3 linked regions of the Homo sapiens genome follow. The protein of the gene in region 2 purifies or fractionates together with the protein of the main gene of each other region. This does not show direct contact. Each region holds a gene or a part of one and is shown on either strand. Other genes may lie near its edges. The genes, in order: PEPD, RNF103 and HADH.

What was found.
Region 1: the proteins of RNF103 (region 2) and PEPD purify together in Homo sapiens (affinity purification with mass spectrometry, with the first as the bait; one large-scale study listed by BioGRID). This does not show direct contact.
Region 3: the proteins of RNF103 (region 2) and HADH purify together in Homo sapiens (affinity purification with mass spectrometry, with the first as the bait; one large-scale study listed by BioGRID). This does not show direct contact.

The regions. Positions count from the first base shown.
Region 1 is NC_000019.10:33,518,798-33,523,127, reverse strand, and holds the start of PEPD (xaa-Pro dipeptidase), read left to right. Parts: upstream 1-1,336; 5' UTR 1,337-1,367; coding exon 1,368-1,384; intron 1,385-4,330. UniProt on the Homo sapiens protein: Dipeptidase that catalyzes the hydrolysis of dipeptides with a prolyl (Xaa-Pro) or hydroxyprolyl residue in the C-terminal position.
Region 2 is NC_000002.12:86,606,866-86,610,365, forward strand, and holds part of RNF103 (E3 ubiquitin-protein ligase RNF103), read right to left. Parts: intron 1-3,500. UniProt on the Homo sapiens protein: Acts as an E2-dependent E3 ubiquitin-protein ligase, probably involved in the ER-associated protein degradation pathway.
Region 3 is NC_000004.12:107,992,768-107,996,489, reverse strand, and holds part of HADH (hydroxyacyl-coenzyme A dehydrogenase, mitochondrial isoform 2 precursor), read right to left. Parts: intron 1-3,722. UniProt on the Homo sapiens protein: Mitochondrial fatty acid beta-oxidation enzyme that catalyzes the third step of the beta-oxidation cycle for medium and short-chain 3-hydroxy fatty acyl-CoAs (C4 to C10).

The sequences.
Region 1 (4,330 bases), on a different chromosome or scaffold from region 2:
GCTCCCTTGCTCCTATTTAAGGGGCCTATTCTCCTCCCTGCTTCATGGGGACAAACAGAAGCTGCTTCTCCAGTCATAGCCCCTGGCTCCCACCAGCCTGGCCATGGTGACCCACATCCTTGTTTCGATAAAGAAACAAGAAGCATCCCCCAACCCACAACCTTTGATCAGAAGCCACTTCCAGCTGTGGGACAGCTGCAGGGTGGGGTCAGGAGCCCCACACGCCTATCCTGGGCCACCCATCCACCTGTCCACACACATCTGTACACCACACACATCTGTACACCCTTGGCGCCAGGGACGCCCTCCCCCAACAGTGTGGGGCCCCCTTCCTTCACAGGGGCAGTGAGGTCACTCCTCAGGGTATGGCTTCATGAGCTCAGCCTCTGTGTGAGCACTCTCTGGCCTCAGTTTCCTCATCTGTATAATAGACTTAAAGATAGTCTCGACCTCATAGGGCTGTGGTGAGGTTTCTATGAGCTCACATGTGCAACGCATTTGGGCCGTGCTTGTAATGCCCTGACTCTGTTGGCAGTAGGGAGGGCAGCGTCTGCTGCAGGGTCCCTACACCTTCTCTGCAGGACTCTGCACCCAGTACCAGTGCCCAGTGGGGCAGAGGAGTAAGCCTTCTGGCAGACTCTCCCTCCTAAACCCTTCTCGGCTGTGCCCACTTCTCGCCTGCCCTCCTCCCTGGCTTCCCTTCCTCCAGCTTCTCCATTCTGCAGCCCAGGAAACCTAGAAAAGATCCTACCAGACTTAACTCATAGGCCCCACAGTGGAGGCCCCGCAGGGTCTGGCCCTTGCTTCCCTTAGGCTGCCCCTCTCTCGCGCACATTCTCCTGGACGCTGCACATTTAGAGTCCTCCAGTTGCCCCACGGCCTTTGCTCAAGCCCTTTCCCTTCTTAAACAAAAATCGCCACCTCTGCCCCGACCCTAGCCTGGGTCAGTCTCCCTCCTCTCCTCCCACGTGGTTTCTTTATTCCTATGTGTTCTTCTCCCGGGTGGGCTGGTACGCCAGATCGGGGACTGAACCAGAATCAAGATGTCCTCTGCTTCAGGACCTCCCTCCCACCACGAAAAGGCTGCAGATGCTGCCCGCTAACCCGACCTACTGTCTGCAGCCGGCAGCCCGCTCATTTATCCTGGCCGAGCTCTTGGGCCCCCAATCTCCGGGAGCCCCGCCCCATCGGGGCTCCGCCCTTCCCCAGGTACCGCCCCTTCCCGTCCCGTGGAATTTGGCTCTGGAGGAGGTGGGTCAAGGACTCCATGCCCCGCCCCCTGCCCCGCCCTTACCCCGCCCCATGCATTGGCACCCGGAGGGGCTCAGCTGACGCCGCACTTCACGTGACGCCGGTGCCGGGCGAACATGGCGGCGGCCACCGGGTGAGTGCTGCGCCTCCCTCGCTCTTTCCCGCTGGCGTGGAGAGGGGCATGGGTGTCCCGGCCGGACCGCGGGTGAGAGCGTCAGCCGGGGTCGCTGAATGCCGCGGGTAGGCGCCTCTTCCCGTTGGCCCGGAGTCCCAGCGCCGGTCGGCGAGCTGCACGCTCCGAGTCAGGGTCAGCGCGGGGGCCGCAGCTCCTCTCCACCCTCCTGGCTGGCTCCGGCCCCACCTGCCCGCGTCTGGCGGCCCCACCGTGTGCGGCTGCGGTGGGGGCTGGGGTCGACACGCATGTTCGCTGCCAAGACCCCCGGGTAGGAGGGCGGCGTTGCGAGGACCCCAGGGACCCGGGCGCTTCCCGGAGGAGGCGGTATTCGAGACGGACTTGGAATTCCCTTTTCCCAGCAGGGCACTTCCCCATTTCTTTCAGGGGCCAAATGTCACCCCCTCAGGGAATCCTTCTCTAACCATCTATCCCACTTTTTGTGCCCTCATCATCACCTGATAAACTATATAGAGCATTGTTTGTACTTGTTCTTTATCTTCTCTGCATTTAGAGTGCAAGGGCAGGTATGTTACCTGCTTCTCAGTAGCCCGGTGCCTTGCACACAGTAGGTGCTCCATACTGGGCTAAATGAAAGAAAGCTGAGTGGTCGTAGTGGGAGGAAGGGTGGACAGATGGGTTCACCAGAGCGTTGGGCGGAATCTCCCAGATAGGGAGCATCTGAGCCCAGGGTAAGGGACAAAGGTTGAGAGTTCAGAGTGTTCTGGGGACAGGGGTGCATGCCTGGGGCTGGTTGGAAGGTGTGGTGTTCCAGGTGGCGGCTTCAGACTTTGCCCTGATGGGCTGGAAGGGTTTTGTTACAAGCTGCTTGATCTGTTTTTTAAAGATTAGGCTCCCCTGAGCTATGTGTGAGTTCAATGGGAGAAGGTGTGGGTCTGGTGGTACAGTGGGGTAGAGGGGGCATGGTGTAGGAGGGAGCAGTATTCCAGATGCCAGGTTGGAAACTGAGGTCAGAATGGGGGATCTAGTGGACTGAATGCATCTCTCTTTTTAAGATACAGGGAAAATGGCAACAGAAAGTGGGTTCTAAGTTGGCCCCCAAGGTTGAGGGAGCTTAGAGCATACAAATCAAATATTTTGTGGGCACCTGCTATATTCCAGGAATAGCAGTGGGTCTTCCCTTAAGGTACTCACAGGCCACTGGAACAGATGGACACATGGGACTCTGTCATCCATCTGCTTGCCGTGTGGTCTTGCCATTTGCAAAGGAGGGGCATGGACTCTGAGCTCAGATAAAGTGTGGGAAGGCTTCACTTCCTGGGTGACTTTTGTGCTAGTCCTTCAGCAATGAGACTCCCTTCAGGTAGAGAACAGTGCAGACAAAGTCTCAGATGGGTGTCAAGGAACTCAGGGTCAGATCCTTGAATCCAGCCTGTGACCCTTTTAAAGGGTAGACTGAGCAGGCTGGTGCCCAGCTGTGGGTGTGCTGTCTCTCTGGTTAGGCTGGCTCGGTGCTCACAGGGAGTGCCAGGGGTTGCATTTGGGTTCAGGATTCCAAGCTGGCCTGAGACCTGCTGCTCTCCTGAAGGAACCAAGCTGATGTCTGGACGGGAGCAAGTCTGGAACTGACTGGATCCTGGAATGAGAGCTTTTCTTTTTCTCTTTCTTTTTTTTTTTTTGAGACGTAGTTTTGCTCTTGTTGCCCAGTCTGGAGTGCAATGGCATGATGGCTCACTGCAACCTCCACCTCCCAGGTTCAAGCGAGTCTTCTGCCTCAGCCTCCTGAGTAGCTGGAATTACAGGCGTGTGCCACCACACTCAGCTAATTTTTTGTATTTTTAGTGGAGATGGGGTTTCACCATGTTGGCCAGACTGGTCTCGAACTCCTGACCTCAGGTGATCCACCCGCCTCCGCCTCCCAAAGTGCTAGGATTACAGGTGTGAGCCACCACGCCTGGCCCCAGAATGAGAGCTTTTCTAGCAGAACCGATTCTCTGGGCCACCACACAGGGTGGGTGAGGGAGGCAAAACAGAGTGGCAGGTCTTAGAGAGGTCTGCTATTGAGAGGGTGTGGGAGCTTCCAGAGCCTGGCAGTCTCCTTGGGAAGAGCCATCCCAGTCTGGTATGGGGCTTTCCCATGTACTTTGAGCCTGAGGTTGACCCCAGTGGCTTCCTTTAGAGCAGAATGATTAAGTGTGTTTCCCGCAAAGCTCAGCTCCTAGCCACACTCACAGAACAGATCATAGAGTCAGGCATAACGAGGCATGATGCCAGCAAGTCACGGCCATTGCCGTGGGCTCACTGGGAGTTGGGTTTGGTTGTCTGTAGAATCCTACCAGAGCCTGGGACAGAGGGGGTCCATGAGAGTTCCAGGTGACTGGGGTGTGCCCCATATGATTTGGGGAGTAGGGGAAGCCCTAAACTAGCATCTCAGATTTAATTTGAAACTCAAGAATCTACTCTGAATGCATCTCTCTTTTTAAGATGTGGGGTGTTTCAGGGTTGATCCTACTTTCTCTTGCTAGCCTGGGTGTAGGCTTCAGGTTGAGACAGAGTGCGCTGAGGTCACCTCCCATCCCCTCATGGAGAGGGGTCCCTATCCCATGGCACTTGGTGGCACTGCTGCTGTCTCCTTAAGCAATGCTTTGAGCTTTCCACAGACAGGATTGATAATTTGAAATCTGTCAGCTCCAGCCAGACCTGTCTGCATCTGCTCTCCCACATGGCTTTTTCCATTCCCTTCTTCCCTTGCACACTCACCCAACTAGCCCTGGAATGTTCTTGTCCTCTATATGATTCTTCACGTATTTGCAGGCCCAGCTCAGATGGTTCCCTTTCCCAGAAGCCTTTCCCAGCCCTCGGGTAAAGGTTTAGTGCTCAGAACTCCAGAACACTCAGTTTTCTCCCCAGCAGTACACTTTTACACGTCTGCCCATTGTGGGTTAG
Region 2 (3,500 bases):
CTCCTGGGCTCAAGCGATTCTCCTGCCTCAGCCTCCTTGAGTAGCTAGGACCACATATGCACGCCACCATGCTAGGCTAAGTTTTAAAAGAATTTTTTGTAGAGTTGGGGTCTCACCATGTCGCCCAGGCTGCCTTTTGTTTTTGGTTTTAGTTAGTTTTTCATGTACCACACAGAAGAGTTAATCTTTTGTTTTTAAAAAGTATTTTTTTTTCCAAAACCTACCATGTGAAATTTTTAAGTAAAATTTACCTCAATAAAGTTGTAAAAAAGACAATCTACCACATGGAAACGTTTTATTTGTTACAGATTTGTATATGCATAGTAATAAATATCTGACTTCGCATTTTGCTACTCAGAATATTGATGTAAAAGTCATAGATGTTATGCTTTACTTAGCATGGATTATATTTTATTAAATAAACATATTACACATCATATGATCAGATGAAGAGAAGAGTCTTGACGTAGGTAGCATATGGCTGTATAATGATAATATGACTAATTTTATCTCAGGGATTCTGTGATATAGTTTAAGATAAATGAAGACAACACGCTATGTCTTAAGACAAGGTTAGTGATGACTCTGGAAAACTGTCTAGGTGACTCAAAATCACAGACTGTGACTCTTAGCTTCTTGTTGAGTTGATTCACTACCTTAATAAGACAGATTCCATTAATATCATTACTGTTTTAACTGAAATGGTCTGAAAAGTATATATTCCTACAAAATAAATATCTTCTACTCAATGCAAAATAATAATTCATTGATTGACATGAATTCTATTTTTACCGTATCCCAAAAAAGTAACAAGTCAAATGCATATGGACAACTGTCTTATTTATATCTTAAATATCTTCAAGTATCTTTAATGTTTTCATTGCACTTGATATTTGTGATGACACATTTCAACTCTTGGCCATCTATTTTATCTTCCTACTATGGCCTCTGATTTGTGTCATAAATTAAATGACAGCCTTTCTGACAGAAAACTTACTTTGTAAAATGAACAAGTTCTAAGTGCAGACATTTCTTCACATAAGAAAACAAACATATTATGTGCTTTCTTTTCAGCTCAGAGCTAAGTAATAATTTTATCATTCCAGATAGAATAAGGTTGTATTACCTTACATCAATATAAAAACTTTTATTGCCAATTCAAAAAAAATTTTTTTATGATCTGAACAAATTCAATGACAATACCATGAAAATATCCTCTAGTTTTTAAACTAAACCTTTTGAGTTCTCTTAGAGAATTTTAAGACTAAAAACGATAGGAAATATGCCTTGTGAGTTTTGGTCTTCCAGTTGCTGATGTGGCATGCTATATTTAAGAAGAAGCAGGGCTCAGTGGCTCACACCTGTAATCCCAGCACTTTGGGAGGCCAAGGTGGGTGGATCACTTGAGGCCAGGAGTTTGAGAACAGTCTGGCCAACATGGTGAAACGCTGTCTCTACTGAAAATACAAAAATTAGCTGGGCATGGTGGCACGCACCTGTAATCCCAGCTACTTGGGGGGCTGAGACACAAGAATCGCCTGAACCCAGTAGGCTGAGGTTGCAGTGAGTTGAGATCGTGCCACTGTACTCCAGCCTGGGCAATAGAGTGAGACTCCATCTCAAAAAAAAAAAAAAAAAAAAAAAAGGAAGAAAGGAAGAGAGAGAAACCTTAACATTTCTGTTTATATATGCTGTTTTTTCAGACAAGGTCATTGGCCTCCTTGGTTTTCCTCGCTCTCTCTGCAATCCCCCCTTCTCTTCTCCTTCCCCGTTTTTTCCACAGGCCACCATCCCTGACACTCTTGCCATAAGGCTTCCTGTTTACCACTCAGCTCCTGCAATTTCCATGTCCTCTATCTTCTCTTTACTAATCCCCATCTCCCCAACCCTCTCTACACATCATTACCACCTCATCTCCTACTTTGTCAAAAAAAGTACAGAGTATGAACCTCACAGGAAAAGCCCTCTGAAATCGATCTGCTGGTTAGGGAATGAGAAGAGGTAGAGCCAGGCAAGGCCACTCCTTCTGGGTACATAGGGAAAGAAATTAAAGCTGCTACAACTAGACAGTCAGAAGTTGCTCAGAAGTGGTAGTCCTAAATGTTCTTAAGGGAGCTACTCTGGTTTGGTTATGGTTTGTCTGTCCCCACCAAACCTCATGTTGACATTTTCTTCCCAGTGTGGCAGTGTTGAGAGGTGAGGCCTAGTGGGAGGTGTCTGGGTCATGGAGGTGGATCCCTCATGAACACTTAGTGCTGCTCTCAAGTTAGTGAGTTCTAGCTTTGGCAAGACTGAATTAGTTCTTGTGGAAATGGAGTAGTTTCCTCGAGAGTGGGCTGACATAAAGCCACATGCCCTTCACATGTGTCCACTTCCCCTTTGACCTTCTCTACCATGTTCTGGCAGCACAGAAGCCTCACCAGAAGCTGAGCAGATGCTGGCACCATGGTTCTTATACAGCCTGCAGAACAGTGAGCTAAATAAATCTATTTTCTTCATAAATTACTCAGCCTCAGGTATTTTTTTTTTTTTTTTTTGAGACAGAGTCTCGCTCTTGTCACCCAGGCTTGGAGTGCAGTGGTGCAATCTCGGCTCACTGCAACCTCCACCTCCTGGGTTCAGGTGATTCTCTTGCCTCAGTCTCCCGAGTAGCTGGGATTACAGGCACCCGCCACCACGCCTGGCTAATTTTTGTATTTTTAGTAGAGACAGGTTTCACCATGTTGGCCAGGCTGGTCTCCAACTCCTTACCTCCGGTGATCTACCTGCCTCAGCCTCCCAAAGTGCTGGGATTACAGGCGTGAGCCACCACTCAGCCTCAGGTATTCTTATACAGCAACACAAAACAGACTAAGGCAGGAGCTAAACAGGTCAGGAAAGTACAGCTGTACAGTGGGACCAGCACACTGAAGTCAGCTGCCCAGAGGCCACCCCAGAGAAGGGACTACAGTCAAAGAATGCAGCATAGACAGTGGGGCACAGAGTTTTGGTATTTTTAAAACTCCAAAATCAAGATGATGACTCAATTATTCAAAATATGTGATTAAAACACTTCCTGAATAACACTATTCTCTGCCCACTTACACCCTGCATTGAAATTCTGAACACTCTTCTCTATATCTCTAAATTTTGTTCTTCTATATCTCCATAGTCATCAAAAGAAAAGAAAAATGACCCTGACTAAGCATAGCTTCTATGGCAAGAACAATTCTTATTCCAGTTGGAGGACTTTCCAAATGAGGAGTCATGGGCACATTATTGGAACTGGTACAAGTCACTGTGCAACAAAATCATTTTCTGATGAAGCTGAGTAGAAGTACTTTTTTAAATAACAAAAACTATAGCTACAATCAACAAAAAAGCAAAAAGTTATCCAAAAAAACATTGCTTCAATTGTAAATAAGAGGTAGGATTATTTGAAGATGAAGGATTTAGAGGAAAACATCTGGAGCTAGCTTGTATGTATCTCTTCACCATTTCTCAGCTAATACAGAATCAGA
Region 3 (3,722 bases), on a different chromosome or scaffold from region 2:
TGTGTTACATAGTTTTTTTTTAATTCAGTAAGTGTGTAGGTTTCATAATAACCCAGATAACCTCTCCCAGACTTCTCACCTCCCACAAATTCTGAAAAGGTAAAGGGATAACCAGACATGTCAACAGCATCGTTATATTTAAGAATCCCTGGAAGATGTTGCTATGATGGACACTTTCCGGGTAGAGGAGAGTTATAAATCCAAATGCCTCTCCAGGAAGACTAATATGACAATGTTTGCCATGATGAGTGGGTTTTTTCTTTTAGTTTTTGCTGAAAGGACCAATTAAGAGGCTCCCATGACAATTCAGGTTAACACACCTGGTCTAGGAACTGCAAAGGAGAGGGCAGAGGAAAGAGCTCTCCCATGACCAAAAAGTTACAGAGCCTTTTCTGGTATGGAGACACTGATTGTGATCCCATCTTCAGAGTACATGTGGCTGGAAGAACAACTGCAGCAACAGGAGGGGCAAGCTCTCTGGAAAAAGCTGGAGGGGAAATAATGAATTAGATCTTGGCAGGTGAGTTTGAGTCTACCATGGGCAGAAGGATGGCAGCACAGCACCCTGATGTAGACGACCAGCAGGTAGACTAACTTTGAGTCCAGAGCCAAGGAGACGTCAACCTGGGATGTACTGATTCCAGAGAGCCACAGAGGATCCCCTGCCATGGATGCCACACTTCTCCCCACAATACAGCACTTGCCAGAGGTGCAGGCAGAACTGAATTCAGGCTTGGGGATTTACAGGCAGCAGAACAGAAGAGAACTCAAGTTCTAACCCCAGCTCTGCCTCTGACCATTGACCCCAGGAACCATCTCTGCAGGGGTGATTATTGTAATGGTCACATGAAATTAAATAAATCAAAATTCTTTGAACAGAATAAAGTGTCATATTTTGTAGAGTGGTTTTAGCTCTACAAAAACCAGTAAATGGTACACTATCTTTCTCAACAACCCACATAAATAAGTCTTAACATCTTTAGAATTGCTGGAACTCCCTATATCAAAACTCTTCCGACAGTGAAGACAATCTAAGAGAAATCCTCACTAGATCAGGTCTGATGGGTCTATGTGAAAGCAGCTAATATTTATCAGACAGTTACTATCAAACACACTAATGCTATTCTAGGAGCTTGTATATTAGTTCATTTAACTTTCACAGCTGTCAGGTGAGTCTCATTATTCCCAGGTAAGTAAAGAGGCAGAGAGGAGTTAAGTGATTTGCCCAAGGTTCCTAAAGGCAGGATAGGAAGGCTAGCATCTAAACCCTGGCAGGGACCTCATAGCCTGTACTTTTGAGATTAGAATACCACTACCAGAAATAATAACATCATGAATATAACAGGGGGAGCCACAGAGAACATCCACATTATCTTCCTGTGGTCCCAGGAGAACTAGAGAGTGAGGTGTGTGTGCCTACCACAGATAAGAGAGAAGGGAGAGGGGAAGAAAGAAGAAACTCAAGCAAGGGGCAAGTGATTAAAGCTGGAGGCAGAACATGGCAGGAAAATGCCAAAACCTGACTGACTGAAGTGCCATTTCTGCTCTAAAAAATGTCCAAACATATCCCATAGCATTATTTTCTGTTGCCTGTGAGCCCTACCTCTTCTACCCTCTAGGAATGACAGTATCTCCAACCTCACCCAGAGTCCAATAACTAATATGCTAATAGAGGGTGGTTCTACATCCCAGTACCTCAACCAAGAGCAGAGAACAGCCCAACAAAGATAAGCAACAACTCGGGAAGTAGGGGGAAAACTTCATAACAAACAGACACATCTCATGTCCTTCAGCAGGAAGGTAACAACTGGGAGTACAAATATTCCCTCCATAAGGAACAGTCAAAAGGAGAGCTTACAGCCAGGTAACTGCTGGTCTCCTGTGATCCTGAAACTTCTCCTAGGCATCTGTACTGCTTTGCAAGCAAAGCAGTACTGTACTGTACAGCTCAACAGAGCTGTACTCACAGTAGAAGAGAATAAAGCTAAAAAAATATGAAACAACTCTGATCATTCTCTTTTTCAGCATCAGAAAATGCAGATTTGGGGGCAAGAAGAAGAGATGAGAGAACAAATCCAGTGGCTGGGGAGAAGCTTTCAGGTCTACCTGAATCCTTATCAAGCATGGTAGAGTCACACAAAATCCCTGCAACGTAGCAGGCTCTCCCTGCCCTTACTTTGTTTTTAATAGCCAAAGAAGCTCTCTCTAGAAAAAATATGCACTTTCTGCTTTTTAAAAAGGAGGAAAAAAAAAAAGCAAGCTTTGGGAGAGAAGAACCTATCCCCAACCCCCTTTAAGATGCAAACTTTCTCACTTCCTCAAAGAAGAGTAGTGCACTAAAAAGAAGGTTGCACCCGGAGAGCATGTAAAGTGTCTCAAGGGGGACATCTGAAGTGCCCCGTTCCCAGGGAGCCCACTGGCTCCTCACAAGTAATCTAATGAAAGCTATGCATTCTCTCTGGGCTCCTCATATGAAAAAACCCAATGTATGAAGCAAAGCCTAGAAAGGATTCAATACTGGAGAAATGCACACAGCTACCAGCTTTCTTCCTTTCTTGTTTTCCTCTTTATAAAGCAAAAAAACAACCTGTCCCCCACTCAAGGCTCATTTAATCCTATAAGCTTCTTTATTGGCCTAAGTATCCAGTGAAGATAAATTAGCAATCAAAACCAAGTCAGAAGTGTGTAATAAGCAAACACATGAAACAAGTTAACTTCAAATATTAACCTGCAGTCTAAGGGATTTTTTGTTTTTTTAATTTAAAACAAACAAAAGAAATGACAGGCAAAGTAGATACTCTCGGAAAATACACATGTACAAATGGCCTGTGCTCTGATCAAATGTAATTAAGCACTGAACTTGTCTTAAATTGCTTAATTGCTTGAGAAATGCATCAGGCTCCCACAAAATCTATTTAAATATTTTTTCATCCTTCTGAGCACAAACTGACGTGTTTAAAATGACAAAACTATTAAAATTATAAGCAGAACTGCACCTTGACTAACATTAAAACCACGTCAGAAAGTTCAAGAAAATTAAGCTAATGAAAATCAGTAACATAACCTCAATACTAGTTTGTGATTGTACTTTTATGGCTTTACTAAAGTTTAACAATAAAATGGGGGGTAACTAAAAAGTGTTCTCCCTCCTTTCAGAGGTCCCTGAAAAAACATACCCGCTGCAGCATCAGCGGGTATATGCATTCAAGATTAAGCAAGATGAAACAGGGAATCATGACCAATATTCTCCATCTAAACCTTACAGGCCTACCTCAGCAGCTGTGATCAGGATGGGAGTGGATATGAGGGGAAAAGGGCAAAAGGACAGGACAACTGCAATGAAGATGATGATTATTCTTTTTATTTATCTTTTTGAGACGGAGTCTCGCTCTGTTGCCCAGGCTACAGTGCAGTGGTGCGATCTCGGCTCACTGCAACCTCCACCTCTCAGGTTCAAGAGACTATTCTGCCACAGCCTTCCAAGTAGGTGGGACCACAGGCACATGCCACCATGCTGGCTAATTTTTTTGTATTTTTAGTAGAGACAGGGTTTCACCATATTGGCCAGGCTGGTCTTGAACTCCTGACCTCAGATGATCTGCCCCCCTCAGCCTCCCAAAGTGCTGGGATTACAGGCTTGAGCCACCATGCCGGGCCGAAGATAATTATTATAAAGGCAGCTAACTTTCTGTGAACTCTTATTACATGCCAGACACTGTGTA